4 linked regions of the Homo sapiens genome follow. The protein of the gene in region 4 interacts with the protein of the main gene of each other region in a pairwise test. Each region holds a gene or a part of one and is shown on either strand. Other genes may lie near its edges.

Region 1 (3,500 bases), on a different chromosome or scaffold from region 4:
TAAGTAAGAGCTATTAAATATTTGATTTACAGTCATGTAGGTGGGAAAAAAATGAGTTGAAAAAGGAAGAGGAAGGCTATTTCTCAATGTCCCCAGCTCATCTGGCTATTTATTATTTAGGGCTTTTTTAAAAACCTATATAAAGAAAGCCATGGTCACTGATATGCCTATAAACTGAGAAAATACCATCTGTACATATATTCTCCATTTGATATAGGAAAAATTCAAGAAGAAAAGGCACTAAAGAAAAAAATTGTAAAGAGCTGTATCTACTCACAGGAGGTCATCATTATTTTAAGACAATTGGAAGTTGGAAAGGGCTGTTTAATGTGAATCCAAGAAAAAGCAGCCAATATTTAATAATATAAAAAATGATTGGATGGGATATTTTGTTGAAAAAAGAATGAAAAACAATAAAATTATTGTATCTTACTTTAAAGGAAGTTTTATTATAATTGTAATTATGAATTAAATCTTTAAATGAAAAGGGATAATTGTATATTAATTGAATGAATAAATCAATAATTATGCATTAATAGTCCCATTACAGTTGATGCTTTTTGTGACAGCATTGTTTGATAAACATATGCCTCTTTTACTATTATGAAAAATCTCATTTCTGCAAGAAATATTCTAGAGAGTCAAATTTTTCTAGAAGTCTATCTTGTTTCTTAGATACTCAAATAATTTGCTTTTAAATTCACACTATTTTTGTTTGGAAATTTATTTGCATCATTTCAAAATGTTATGGTCAGATGTTTATAACACTCAGTAATTATAGTGAAACTGACCCATATATAATAAATAGAAGGCATAGTTTGCTGAGTGGGGAGGACATGTTTGATAAACGACTACTTCATAAATGAACAACTTTTTTAGTGAATAATCTAAAGTTTGGTACACTATTACTTTCCTATGCAACCTCATCATTATTAGGATTGGGATAATTATATTTAGATAAGTAAGGGTCCCCCCATTGTTATACATGACATTAACCGCACACCTAAGAGACCTGATTCAGGAATTTTTCACTTGGGATCCAAGAAAACATTCAGGAGATCCCTAAGATCTCTGAATGCATGTGAATTATTGTCCATATAAACAGTTCTATACTTTTCTAGGGAGAGGGTCTATAACTCACTAGATTCTCAAGGTATCTGCCTTAAAAAGTTAAGAACTACCATCTAATTAATTTTTAATGTATTTCAGTTGACCGGGACACAGCATAACTCTTTACTCTCTTTAAAAATTCATTACCCTTTTTACAGTTCCCTGACATCTCATAATCTGAATGTAGCAGCAAATAGCAGTTCCCTCTCCAGATCTCTTGTGTCCAGGCTCTATCATCCTGTGCCAAGTCCTTATCTCAGCCAAGATTGTGAAGGATAGATTTCAAGGCCCAGTAGTTGTACCTTAACAGAACAGAAAATAATGACTGAGTAATGACATCATCAGTGCAAGTCTACTCAAAATATGAAGAAATGAGAAGAGCAGATAAAATGAGAACTGAAGCCAGTCTCTATCTAATAAAGTGGTGTGTTTTCTATGAACTCCAAAATATATTCCTTATCTATAATTTTTAACATTTAATCAAATTATCAACTCAGATAATGAAGTGGAATTTTGTTATAAAATTAAAAGTATGTAATATCGTCTTGAAAATTATTGAGAAGATGTATCTAATAGCTGTTTCACATGGCATATTTCAGATGAATTTATCTATCAGGCTTTAATGACTGTACCCAGAAGTTAGTAATTATTTTTCCATGTCAAACAATAAAATTATTTTAATTCTCCAAATTCTGAGCAAATGATACAAGCTAAGCCTGAGATAATTATTATACCATAATGATTTACTATTTTTCTACTTTTATCAGCATTAGGGTCTCACATTTCATAGTGACATATTTTCCATGTGAGAAGCAACTAAAAGATCCTTTCAAAATTTATCCCAAAGCTTAATATTCATGAAAGATTACATCTCACTCATTAGTAATATATATTTTAGTTTTTAGCATCCTCCCTGCTACTAAAAAGATTTGTTTCTATTATATTAATACTATATTATTTCACCATAGTTTTCTAAGGGCCTTCACAACCTGTTGTCAGTCTTATGCTTCAGAACTCCCCAACAGACATCTTCTAGGGCATCCAGATCTTTCTAATTAAAGTCCTATAAAGATACTTCCCCTATTATTCTCACTTTTATCATTTGGTTGGTATTATTCCTTTATATGCCCTCACTTTCACTCAATTAATGCCTTTCAAAGAGAAGTCAAATTCTGCTGTTCCCATAAAGTTTGTCAGTCATTTTCATTTTCTCTGACCTTCTGTATTTACAGTTTATGCTTAGATTTTTTATTCTATATGTCTTCTATCTTTTGTTTTTGTTTTTCATGCATTCTCATTAACTACCTTAGGAGTAAGACCATATCTTTTTCAACTCTTCTACATTTTCTCAGGACTCACTGCAGTTCTGAGTATGCCTCCATGAATACTCATTGATCGGATGATCACTCTTGGAGGTCCAGCACAGAGCAACGTGCTTGGTAACTTAATTTCCTAACCTAAAACAAGCGCAAGAGATAAAAATCTAAATGAAGCATCATAGTTATAAGTGCTTATAATAAATGCTAACAGTGCAACCAAAGATCATAGGACACTCTAAGTGTTTATAGAAATAGAACCTTACGTTCCTCTCAGAACTGAAAATAATAAGAAATAGTTTGTTGTAATAATTATTTTGTCAATTGGCAATTCAATTTTCAATATTTTATCCATTTGGAGAAAAACCAAATCAACAACTAATTGATTTCTGTCCAATACTGATGAAAAGTTTTAAGTACCTGAAAACTGTCCTTGCAGGGGGACATTTTATATTTTATTTACTAAAATTGATGATCTGACATCTCTTCTTCATAAGAAAAGAGAATTTGGAATGTGATTCTGATGCAGTCAGAAGCATGAAGAAAACAAAAGAACATATACTACCTGAATGATGTGCATATGTGTATGTGTATGTTTGTGTGAAGGGATACAATTCTGGTCCATATTCCTGAGGAAAATATTCAATATGTTCCTTTTCCTGAACAGAGACTGGAGATATAAATATGCATGGATGCTTTTAGAATTAGTGTAATTGAACCAACTACAATAAAATGAGGATCTAATTTTAGTAACCAATGTTTTTATAAGTTATCCATATTTTATTGTGGAAAATTCTCACATTTATTGTAGATTTGCCTTTCAACCACAAGTGACAGATAATCTATTATACATTTATTTATCCTATAAAGTTTGAACTTTAGACATGTCTACTAGACAATGGAGAAAGGCAATGACCACCTGATATGTTGATCTTGATTCCGGAAGACTGATGTGAAAGTTGAAGAGAAGATGGAAATGAGTAACTAAGAGACTGTTTGTATATTTCAGTCGTTTAACACTTTGCAGTCATTAGTTCCAGTAGTACACCACCAAGTTGCTGCTTTTAAAACATC
Region 2 (4,297 bases), on a different chromosome or scaffold from region 4:
ACTGCAGCTGTTCTAATCCACTCCTACCAACAGTTTTGAAGAGATGTTGATAGCGAATCAAGCTTTATAACCATGTGATCCCATCTTATGGTTTCAATCCATGCACAGGAGGAAAATTGTGGGCACGAAGTTTCCAAAGGGAAAATTTATAGATTGGTAGTTAATGAAATACAGTTTTCCTCCTTGGCAAATTTAATTTACTAGCTTCACTGTATAGGAAAAAGCAGGAAAAAAATTAAAACCAACTCACCTCCAAACCTGTTTTGAGCTTTTACTTGTCTGCCCAATTGATAGTTTCTACTCTCTGCTTTTGATGAAAATATTTTTTATTATTTTAATGTAACTTCTGAAAACTAAATTATCTAGAAGCAAATAAAAAGATATTGCTTTTATAGTTCCCAGAAGGAAAAAACAAACACTAGGAAAGTTCTATCTATCAGATGGGGGAGATGTGATGGAGGCAGTGATATTTGAGCTGAGCCTTGAACAATGAACAGGAGTCTACCAAGCGAGAGGCTAGCGGGTGGCCCTCCAAGATAAAACAACAGCATGTACAAAGGCATGGAGACATACACATCTTGACTTTTCCAGGAATGGTGGGAACGCTGGTGGAGCTAGAATGTAGGTACATAGCATAAAGTGGCAGACGGGAAGCCTTTGGAAATCTTATTACATAGGACCCTGGATGCCATTCCAATGACTTTGAATTTTCTGTAGGCTGCCAGCGAAATTTCCAAGCGTGATAGAGTCATGTCTATCTATGCACTTCAGAAAGACAACCTCAGGGTTAATGAAGAAAATGCATTGGAATATAAGAAACTGGTGACCAGAGTGATCAATTGCATGACTGTTGTGAAAGTCCAGGTGAGGGGAGCTGTGGGCAAGGTCAGAGTTGAGAGGCATTTCAGAGATAAAATGACAGTAACTAAGTAGATGTCAGACTGAGAAGAAAGGGCTGTACCAGATATATGGTGCTATCATTAAGTGAGCTCAACATTGCAGAAAAGGGGTAGGTTTGGTGGGAGTTGCTCACAAAACATGTTTAGTCTAAGCAAAACCATTGCCATGGGCTCAGATAAAAGTTAAGAAGTGGAAACCATTCCTACATTCCTATAGGAGCTGCTATCTGGAAGGCCTAGTATACACGTGGCTTTTCAGCTGTGATTTTGTTTGATTTTAGGGATTATTCTTTTTCTGAATCTGAGCAATGTTAGCGTGTAAAATACTCACGCCCACAGCTTTGACTGGGTGAGAAGTTATCATAAATCATATTGAGTTTGTTGTGATACCTTCAGCTTCAACAAGTGATGAGTCAGGTCAACTCCATGTGAAAGTTCCTTGCTAAGCATGCAGATATTCTGAAAGGTTTCCTGGTACACTGGCTCATGGCACAGATAGGAGAAATTGAGGAAGGTAAGTCTTTGACCCCACCTGATAACACCTAGTTTGAGTCAACCTGGTTAAGTACAAATATGAGAAGGCTTCTCATTCAGGTCCATGCTTGCCTACTCCTCTGTCCACTGCTTTCGTGAAGACAAGATGAAGTTCACAGTGAGTAGATTTTTCCTTTTGAATTTACCACCAAATGATTGGAGACTGTCAATATTCTGAGATTTAGGAGGTCTGCTTCTTATGGCCCCATCATGGAAAATTTGTTTTAAAAAAATTCTCTCTTCAAACACATGGACACAGAGAGGGGAACAACACACACTAGGTCCTGTTGGGGGGTGGAGAGTGAGGGGAGGGAACTTAGAGGACAGGTCAATAGGGGCAGCAAACCACCATGGCACACATATACCTATGTAACAAACCTGCACGTTCTGCACATGTATCCCTTTTTTTTAGAAGAAGAAATAATGAAAAAAAATCTTTTTTCTATTTATATAATCATGGCATTTATAAGCATCTCTATAGAGAAGGATAATTGTGCTGAGATTAGACAGCTGTCTGAGCACCTCACACTGACCTATTTTTAACAAAATGACTTTCCGCATCACCTGATTCCGGTCTCCATGCAGGGTAAGCAGTTCCTAAGCCCTAGAAAGTGCCGATCATCCCTCATTCTTGAATTCCTCCTTTTATTTACCAAAATTCCTGAGCATGTTCAGGAAAGATGAAAAGCTTATTATCAAAATAAGTGGCTGAGATAGACTTCTTGTCACATTTGTTACAGTAAAATGGGTCTCCAAGAAAGAAAGATTTGCCTTGGGCTCTAGCATGGCCATTTATTTAAGAAAGCATCTGAAACATGAAGCTACCACAGCATCTCTCCTGTGGTTCCAGACAGAAGCCTGAGAGTCTAGGAGGAGGTGGACCGAGAAACCCTGCCAAAGTAACTAGTAGTGCCGGGTTTCTCACAACACGATGCAAAGGGGCTAGAATCAGATGACTATTTTCATGTTTCAACATACTACACACTGGAAAACGTTACGGCAGACTCTACTTTATAATGGGGCTGCAAATGTAAAATGACTACCTAGAACTAGGTCCTCTTAATAGCAGCAAAGTTTAAAAGGGTCAGAGGGAGCTCCAGACACAGGTTAGATTTGATTTCTCTCCTAGTTCTGCTGTGAACAAGAGGTATAAGTTTGGCCAACTCACTTAACCCCTGAAGCTCAGTTACCTTATCTGTAAAATGATTGCATTGTACTAGGTGTTCTCTAAAATTTCTTCTACCTCTGACTTTTTAGGAGACTAATTTTTAACTCCTTTTTAAGCTATTGGGAGAAAAATTTAATTTTTTTTCAAAAGTTACCTTGAATCTCTAGAGCAGTTCTCAAAACTATTTTGTCCCAGGCAAAGGAAATGAGACTAGGTACCCAGAATGAGGCACCCTGCATAAAGCTCTGTGCTCTGAAAACCAATGTCAGGGACCCTGTGATAAATAATTAAACCAAGTATCCTGGGACACTGCTAGTGACATCGCCTCTGCTGATCACTCTTGCCAGCGAGACACTCTATACTTGCTTTCTCATCATTGGCATCCAAACTGCCTACTAATCCATTGCTTTGGAAAGTTTTTTTTAATAAAAAGATTATTTCTATTAGGAAGAAAACATCCCATGTTAAATAGGAAAATTAACTGAAATCATTTTCAGATGTGATTTTTAGCACTTATAGCCATCTCAAACCATAGTATTCATTTATACTATGCTATTTATTGTAAAACTTCTTTTTTTTTCCAAGGAAAATAAGATAGTTTGCTTTATTTTAAAACAGTAACTTTCTTATATTGGGGCACTGACCAAAATTCAATACTGGTACAAATATGTTACCTAGGAGGTCAAAATATGTGCCAGGTGAATTTTCTGAATTTCTCTAAAGAGAGAATTTTAAACCTTATAAAACAATTAGAAACAAGTGAGTGAGAGGTGAGCATCAACAACCTGTGTAACATAAGCCACAGTACAAATTTAAGCTGAATAACCAAGCCATGTCAGTTATCCCAAATCATTTTTGTTAATATTTAGGAGGATACACATATTTTCAATAACTTAAAAGTGAATCTTTACTCCTATCTCTTAATACTCGAAGAAGTATAACTTTCTTCTTTTACTAGATTTAAATAATCCAAATATCTACTCAAGGTAGGATGCTGTCATTAACTATAGCTGAGTTTATCCAAAATAGAAAAATCATGAAGATTTATAAAGCATTTTAAAAATAATCATTTATAGCAAGTCCTTGAAAGCTCTAAATAAGAAAGGCAGTTCTCTACTTTCTAATAACACCTATGGTTTATATTACATAATATAATTCAACAAAACAGCATTCTGACCAATGATAATTTATAGGAAATTCATTTGCCAAGTATATGTTTTATTATAAAGTTAATATTTTGACCAATCTTAAAAATTTTTAAACTCTATTCTGACATTTCCAGAAGTATTATCTTAGCAAAGTCATCTTTATGATACCACTTATTAAACTGAAGAGAAACAAGATGGTACATTCTGGGTTTTACTTTAAAAGGGATTTGATTCAATAATTTGATTTATCACTACTTGAAAATTACATTTTCTTCCTCAGTACTGGATGGCAATGAGATGAAAGCAGCTTTCCTGGCTCTCAACTTCCCTTCTTCATCAATTTTTCCAGCGTTTCATAAGGCCTACACTAAAAATTCTAAAACTATATATCACATTAATATAATTACTTATAATTAATCAGCAATTTCACATTATCGTTAAAACCTTTATGGTTAAAAAATGCAAGGTAAGAGAAGAAAAAAACACATTGAACTAGAACTGAACACATTGGTAAAATTAGTGAATACTTTTCATAAGCTTGGATAGAG
Region 3 (3,500 bases), on a different chromosome or scaffold from region 4:
TTTTTTTAAAAAAATTTTTTGAAATGGAGTCTTGCTCTGTCTCCCAGGCTAGAGTGCAGTGGTGTGATCTCAGCTCACTGCAACCTCCATTTCCTGGGTTCAAGCAATTTTCCTGTCTCATCCTCCCAAGTAGCTGGGATTACAGGCACTTGCCACCACGCCTGGCTAATTTTTGCATTTTTTATAGAGATGGGGTTTTGCCATGTAGGCCAGGCTAGTCTCGAACTCCTAAACTCAGGTGATCTGCCCTCCTCGGCCTCCCAAAGTGCTGGGATTATAGACGTGAGCCACTATGCCCAGCCAAGAGATTGTAAATGTGTTATAAAAATTGGTTAAAATCTTGATGAGTCAGTGGGGTCCTCTCAAGAAATCCTCCTGAAGTCTAACCAGGGGGACTTAGAATAGTGAAAAATTGGGACAAAATGCTTACAGGAAGCCATAGAGCAGCCTTCAGAAGCAAGGAGTCAGGCCTCTGGGGAAGACATATGCCCTTTCCATTGGTTGCTACTTTTTCCCCCACTTCTTTCTATCTATATCTTAACTTATAGGGCCACTTTGTATTCTACCCCCTCCAAGTTTTTTCTGGCAATTCTGACTGGAAGTTTTCCTTTTTCCCCTTTGAAGAGTACTTTATAATAATTTAAGAAGTATTTTTGAGCACATACTGCGGGCACCCTGCTCCAGACACGGAGGACACATGTTGAACAAGTGTATTCCTGATCTCTAGGAGTGGATGCACTGCCACTCATCACTAAGAGTCTCTGTGGGCTGGGCACAGTGGCTCATGCCTGTAATCCCAGCACTTTGGGAGGCTGAGGTGGGCAGATCATGAGGTTGAGAGTTCGAGAACAGCCTGGCCAACATGGTGAAACCCTATCTCTACTAAAAACACAAAAATTAGCAGGGCATGGTGGCACTCACCTGTAATATCAGCTACTCAGGAGGCTGAGGCAGGAGAATTGCTTGAACCTGGTTGGCGGAGGTTGCAGTGGGCCATGATCAAGCCACTGCACTCCAGCCTGGGCGACACAGCAAGACTCCATCTCAACAACAACAAACAAAACAAAACAAACAAATAACAACAACAACAACAACAACAAAAAGAGTCTCTTTGGCCTCTCTTGGGCTAAGTGACTCGTGTGTTTGTCTTGCCTCTCCTTTAGGCAGGGTTTACTCTTCTATTCCCCAGAGCTTCTAAAGATCCTCTTTAGCTAAGAATTTGTTATCAGAGACCCCAGGGTTACCAAGTTGTTCAGAGGACATACAAATAGTGACTAAGGAACTTTAAAATGAGTCTTCCATTACACTTCTCAAGTTCTTACTAGCATCAATCCCCAGCCACCTCATGAACATCAGAGATTGTCCTAGATGATAAGCAAGTACTGCAAATACAATAGAAATGGATCACAAAGTAAAATTAGAAATCTTAGAGAAGGTACAGGACTTCTTGAAGTCCGTGAAAGTGAGTTTAGAGAACAATTTGAATTCACACCCAAAATTGTAGACAATTGAGGACCTAACAGAGTCATATTAGTTATTACCAGCAGGAGAGAGAAAATCAGTAAGGATGGTGGCATGATGGGTACTTCCCAAGTGAATGATTGGAATGTCAATGAATGAAGAAAGGACCTTGGGAAATATGAAAAACTTTTGAATATTTTACAAAAGTCAGTATGAAGTGAGAGATGTTAAATGATGCCATGATTCAATTTTGTCAGAAAAATTATGCCAAAAAATCCACACTTAATTCACACCTTGTTCATTTAAAAATGAGAGCATAATTGCTATTTTAATTTAATTTTGTGAAATCTAAGATAGTTTTTCATTTTACAATTCTTAGTTTCTATGATAAAATTCCATCCAAATGCCCTGACCCCAATTATACTATGCTATTTTTGTCACCTTAAAAATGTGGATTCACTTTAAGTGGACTTTTTCTGGTATTAATTATCCTGATATAGAAAGAACTTTCAGTAATTCAGTAAAGCGATGGATTAATCAACATCATTTTTCCAGAACCAATGACTAAGAACATTACAGGCAGAAAGGGGACAACTGGCTTTATTGACTCTTAGGCGGAACACAAGGGTCCATAGAACCAGCCAGATTTCTCTGGGAACGGAGTTGCCTAGTCCAGCTAGGAGGTAATTTTGGGATAAGCATGCTTAAGACCTTAAAAGGGAACTCTTAAGGCTCCAAAGGAAGTTGCTTACCCACAAAGCACCAGACCGCAAACCGGATCCATGTGATGGTGGAGAGCTTTAGCATGAGATAGATGTTCACCAGCATGGCAAAGGCAGGCACAAAGGGGAGGCAAGGGGCCATGTAGGGCAGCTTCTTGGGGTTCTCTGGCTGCTGCAGGATCACAAACACCAGGGTGCTGATCAGCAGCACCATCAGAACAACCAGAAGGATGGCCCACCAGCTCTGCTCTGAGATGTAGTCAGAACCAAAGATGATGAAGGAGCAGAAGATGAACATGAGGATGAAGAGCAGGAGCACGCAGATGGTCACCGTGTGCCCCGTCGCTGCTGTGGGCCGGTCCATTTTGCCTGGAAGGCCCAGCCGGATTCTCATGGTGTAATAATGAGGCCCAATCAGCTTCTTTAACTTGATGAGATAAATATTTTCGGATTCATCAGCTTCTATGCCTGTGGTCATGTCCACGGTGCCGTAATTGGGGTGGTTGACGTTGTAGGTTGACTTGTCTGATTTCCCTATGAGCATCTCATTGTCTCCCAAGGATGGTAAGTTCTTGGCCCCACATGTGTTGGTGGCTGGGCCAGAAAACTCATCCCCCTCACTCACAGGAGAACAAGCTTCCTTCTCACAGTCAGCCAGAATGCCCTCCTTCTTCTTGGTGTGCTCCTCAGACAAGAACTTGACAAAACCATCAATGTCACTCTCAGGTTGGTATCGAAGGAGCAAGACACAGACAGAGACCAAGGTGTAGGCCAGGAGCGTGCCGATAGACATCATCTCTATCAGGTCTCTCAAGCTGACCAACAGTGCGAGGAGCGCTGCCAGGAACCCCGACACGATGCAGGCCACCACTGGTGTCTCTGTGTAGGAGCTGACGTGAGCCAGGAACCTGGAGGGGCCGGGCAAGCAGAGGGTTAATGGTGAGCTACAGTGACCGATTCCAGTGCAGCCAACATAGGGAGCTAGAACTATCAATAGGCTGGTGTGATTAACTCCTCCTGGTCCTGCTCCACCAATTTACTTCTGCATTCACTACTTTAAATCCAGCTGCTATTCCTACCCCAGGATTTGGTATATAATTAAAAAAGAATTCACTTTAAATCTTTGATTTCTTTTTTTTTTTTTTTTTTGGTGAGATGGTGTCTCACTCTGCTTACTCTGTCCCCCAGGCTGGAGTGCAGTGGCGTGATCTCAGCTCACTGCAACCTCCACCTCCTGGGTTCAAGTGATTCTCCTGCCTCAGCCTCCCGAGTAGCTGGGATTACAGGCATGCACCACTACACCCGGCTAATTTTTGT
Region 4 (3,500 bases):
CACCATGTCTCTTTCCTGCATCTGGCTATAAGCAACACATGGCAGTGCAGGGAAGAAGGGAAAGAAATCTCAACTCCCCAGAGCACAGAGAGCTGGGCCTACTTGTGCTCTGTCCTGGCCATCTGTGTAGCTTGAGGCAGACACTTTGGCTTTCAGGGCCCCACTCAGCCACCTCGAAATAAAGGGTAGAGGTTGCACTAGCAATCCCCTAACCCTCAGTCTATCTAAAAAAAGAGAAAAGGCCTCTGCGTGTGGGGCTCTGATGTGCACAAAGGAGGGGATTCTGCAGGAGCAATGGTATTGGAAGAGAACATCCCAACTCAACTCTCCTGCCCCACCTAAGGCCTCCACCGAAGCCTCCCACCTTCATCCCTTTTAATTCCCATAGCCCCCACCCTCATCTGCCCCGACAGCTACTAATCTCCTGACCTCTTCTCTTTAATGTTACCAGATTAAGTCTACTTATGTAATATGCAAATATGATATGTAGTCACTCATTTTAAAACAGTTATTAGCCAGGTGTGGTAGCTCACGCCTGTAATCCCAACACTTGTGGAGGCCAAGGTGGGCAGATCACTTTAAGTCCAGGGTTCAAGACCAGCCTGGCCAACAAACACAGTGAAACCCCATCTCTACTAAAAATACAAAAATTAGCCAGGCGTGGTGGCGCACACCTGTAATTCCAGCTACTAGGGAGGCTGAGGCAGGAGAATTGCTTGAACCTGGGAGGCAGAGGTTGAAATGAGCTAAGATCGCGGCACAGCACTCCAGCCTGGGCGACAAAATGAGACTCCGTCTCAAAAAAAAAAAAAAAATATATATATACACACACACACACACACACACACACACACACACACACACACACACAAACACATATATATATACATATATACACACACACATATATATACATATATACACATATATACACATATACATATATACACATATATATACACATACATATATATATATATATATAGAGAGAGAGAGAGAGAGAGATACATATATATATGGAAAAGGGAACACAAATAGGTGGAGTTACTTACAATTACCAAGTACTAATTAGGTAATATGCTGAGAGATTTATAAACATTATTCTTTTAATCTTCACAACAACCCTGTGAGGCAGGTACTAATTATTATTCCTAACTTACAGGGAAAAGCTGAGGCCCAGGGAGATAAAATAGCTGCTCAAGGCACACACCCATAAGGTGCTGAATGGGAGCTGGGTCCAGTGTGGCTCAACTCTGCAGTCCCTTCATCTCCCAAGGGTTCCCCCTCCACCACTCCTGCTCTCTGCCCCTTTGAGCAATAGGTAAAGGACTCTGTGGTCCAGTAAGCCAGGGCTTTCCGAAGCCCACTGTGTCCACTGGACAGCCCAGCCTGCAGGGAGGGCCCCGAGATCAGCCCATTCATGGAAGCCACCAGACGCCTTCTCTGCCAGCCCATTGTGTCACACCCCTCAAACACCTTCTAAGAAGTCATCGCTTCTCCCCAGAGCATCCTGCTAAGGGTCAAAGCACCACAATATTCCCATAGCAAGCCAGGAGAGGGGGAATAATCACATGCAACTAGAAGAAAACATCTGCTTTACCACATTCCTGGAGGCTTTTCCAGAAGCAACAGTGCCTGATTTTCCAGCACGCAATCTTTAAGTGTCTTCCCAGTGCCCCTCCCCAGTCTCCAATCCACGCCTCAGCAGCACAGGACAGACTGATCTTAATACTTACGGACCCTTGATTCCTCAGATGAAAGGTTTGGAGAAATACTCTGGCAAGTTACACCAAAATTAAAATGTCCTATTACCATAACTAGCATCCGGGAGAAACAGAGAATGTGAAATCAGGAGCTCTTGCTTCCAGGTACCACAATGCCACCACTGGTGGCATGACGCTTACACCACCCTGAGCTGAGCCATGGTCCTTGAGGGTTTGGTTCCCTCATCTTCTATAGTTGCTATGGACCCACCACTCTTAACATCTACGATCTCAGCAATAAGAATCAAGAAGCCAAATAACCAGTTCTCACTGCTAGGGGCTTAAGCAGAGGGAGTCGAGCCAGAGTCGCCGCGATGGTGTTGTTGGAGAGCGAGCAGCTCCTGACGGAGCTGACCAGACTTTTCCAGAAGTGCTGGACATCAGGCAGCATCATATCACCTTGAAGAAGTATGACAGTCGAACCAAATCCATTCCAAAGAAAGGTACTGTGGAGGGCTTTGAGCCTGCAGACAACAAGTGTCTGTTAAGAGCTACCGATGGGAAAAAGAAGATCAGCACAGTGGTGAGCTCCGAGGAAGTGAATAAGTTTCAGATGGCTTATTCAAACCTCCTGAGAGCTAACATGGATGGGCTGAAGAAGAGAGACAAAAAGAACAAAACTAAGAAGACCAAAGCAGCAGCAGCAGCAGCAACAGCAGCACAGTAAAGGACATACATTTCCTGCTTTCACCAATTAACCACTGAATTGCTATTTTTTCCTTTTGGCCACATAGCTAGGTTTCTGGTTCCCCCACAGTAGGTGTTTTCACATAAGATTAGGGTCTTTTTGGAAAGAATAGTTGCAGTGTTTATAGGATAGTTGTGGTAAGAATCTAGTTTATTTTGCATTTGGCTAATTGGTCTGTGCTGCATGGTTATATACTCCTGGATTATAGATAAAAAGTCTCCGTAGACATCTCTGTGAAGAGCAAGCTATCATTAAACATGTCTGTTTATCAAGAAAAAAAAAAGAAGCCAAATGATGAGGTTTGCAACCTCACCAATAATAAATGAAATGCCTACTGAACAATGATCCATTTCTTTCACCCAGGGGAATGGCAGCCCATTACCACTGACAACAGGAACTAGCACATCTCTTGAGAGCATAGTATGGGTACTGCTGCAACATTTTAAATGAATTTAACATTTGACATGCCAATTCTACTCCTAGAGAAACATGTGCATACTAATATGTATGAATGAAGATATAATAGCAAAACTAATGAGTTAGTTTATATGTCTACCAGTAGGGGACCAATTCATAAATTATGACATAACTACACTGGAAAATATTTTGTAGGCAAATAAAAGACAAATTAAAAGAACAGAGAAGAGCTACATGCATGAAAAGCTCTCGAAAATATACTATGTGAAAAAAGCAGTATGATGCAATCAGATTCATGCTTCTAAAAGAAGGAAAACCATAGTGTATTTGTGTATACAGGCTTGACAGTTTCAGGACACGGATCCAACTGCTAACACCAGTTATCTCTGAGGACCTGGAGGAGCTGGCACCTGGGGAGGGGTGCTGGGTGAAGGGGAATGTGACAAGTCTGCTGTGTCCTTCTGCACTATTTAAATGCAAGGGCAGGCTGCAGGAGAATACATTTACATATTACCTATATGATTTCAGAAAAAAAGCACCTAAACTGATTAAAAAACCACCACCACCAAAACAAGCTACTTATGCTGATGTGAAATTGCTGCACCAATTTGAACAGGTTTCTATGCTGCACT

What was found.
Region 1: the proteins of SMCO4 (region 4) and TFEC interact in binary tests that used the Homo sapiens proteins (3 or more experiments, as listed by UniProt).
Region 2: the proteins of SMCO4 (region 4) and GKN1 interact in binary tests that used the Homo sapiens proteins (3 or more experiments, as listed by UniProt).
Region 3: the proteins of SMCO4 (region 4) and SLC7A14 interact in binary tests that used the Homo sapiens proteins (3 or more experiments, as listed by UniProt).

What each region holds. Positions count from the first base shown.
Region 1 is NC_000007.14:115,936,764-115,940,263, forward strand, and holds part of TFEC (transcription factor EC), read right to left. Parts: 3' UTR 1-3,500. UniProt on the Homo sapiens protein: Transcriptional regulator that acts as a repressor or an activator. Acts as a transcriptional repressor on minimal promoter containing element F (that includes an E-box sequence). Binds to element F in an E-box sequence-specific manner.
Region 2 is NC_000002.12:68,973,139-68,977,435, forward strand, and holds the start of GKN1 (gastrokine-1 precursor), read left to right. Parts: upstream 1-1,497; 5' UTR 1,498-1,539; coding exon 1,540-1,551; intron 1,552-4,297. UniProt on the Homo sapiens protein: Has mitogenic activity and may be involved in maintaining the integrity of the gastric mucosal epithelium.
Region 3 is NC_000003.12:170,478,076-170,481,575, forward strand, and holds part of SLC7A14 (solute carrier family 7 member 14), read right to left. Parts: intron 3,092-3,500; coding exon 2,214-3,091; intron 1-2,213. UniProt on the Homo sapiens protein: Imports 4-aminobutanoate (GABA) into lysosomes. May act as a GABA sensor that regulates mTORC2-dependent INS signaling and gluconeogenesis. The transport mechanism and substrate selectivity remain to be elucidated.
Region 4 is NC_000011.10:93,533,392-93,536,891, forward strand, and holds part of SMCO4 (single-pass membrane and coiled-coil domain-containing protein 4), read right to left. Parts: intron 1-3,500.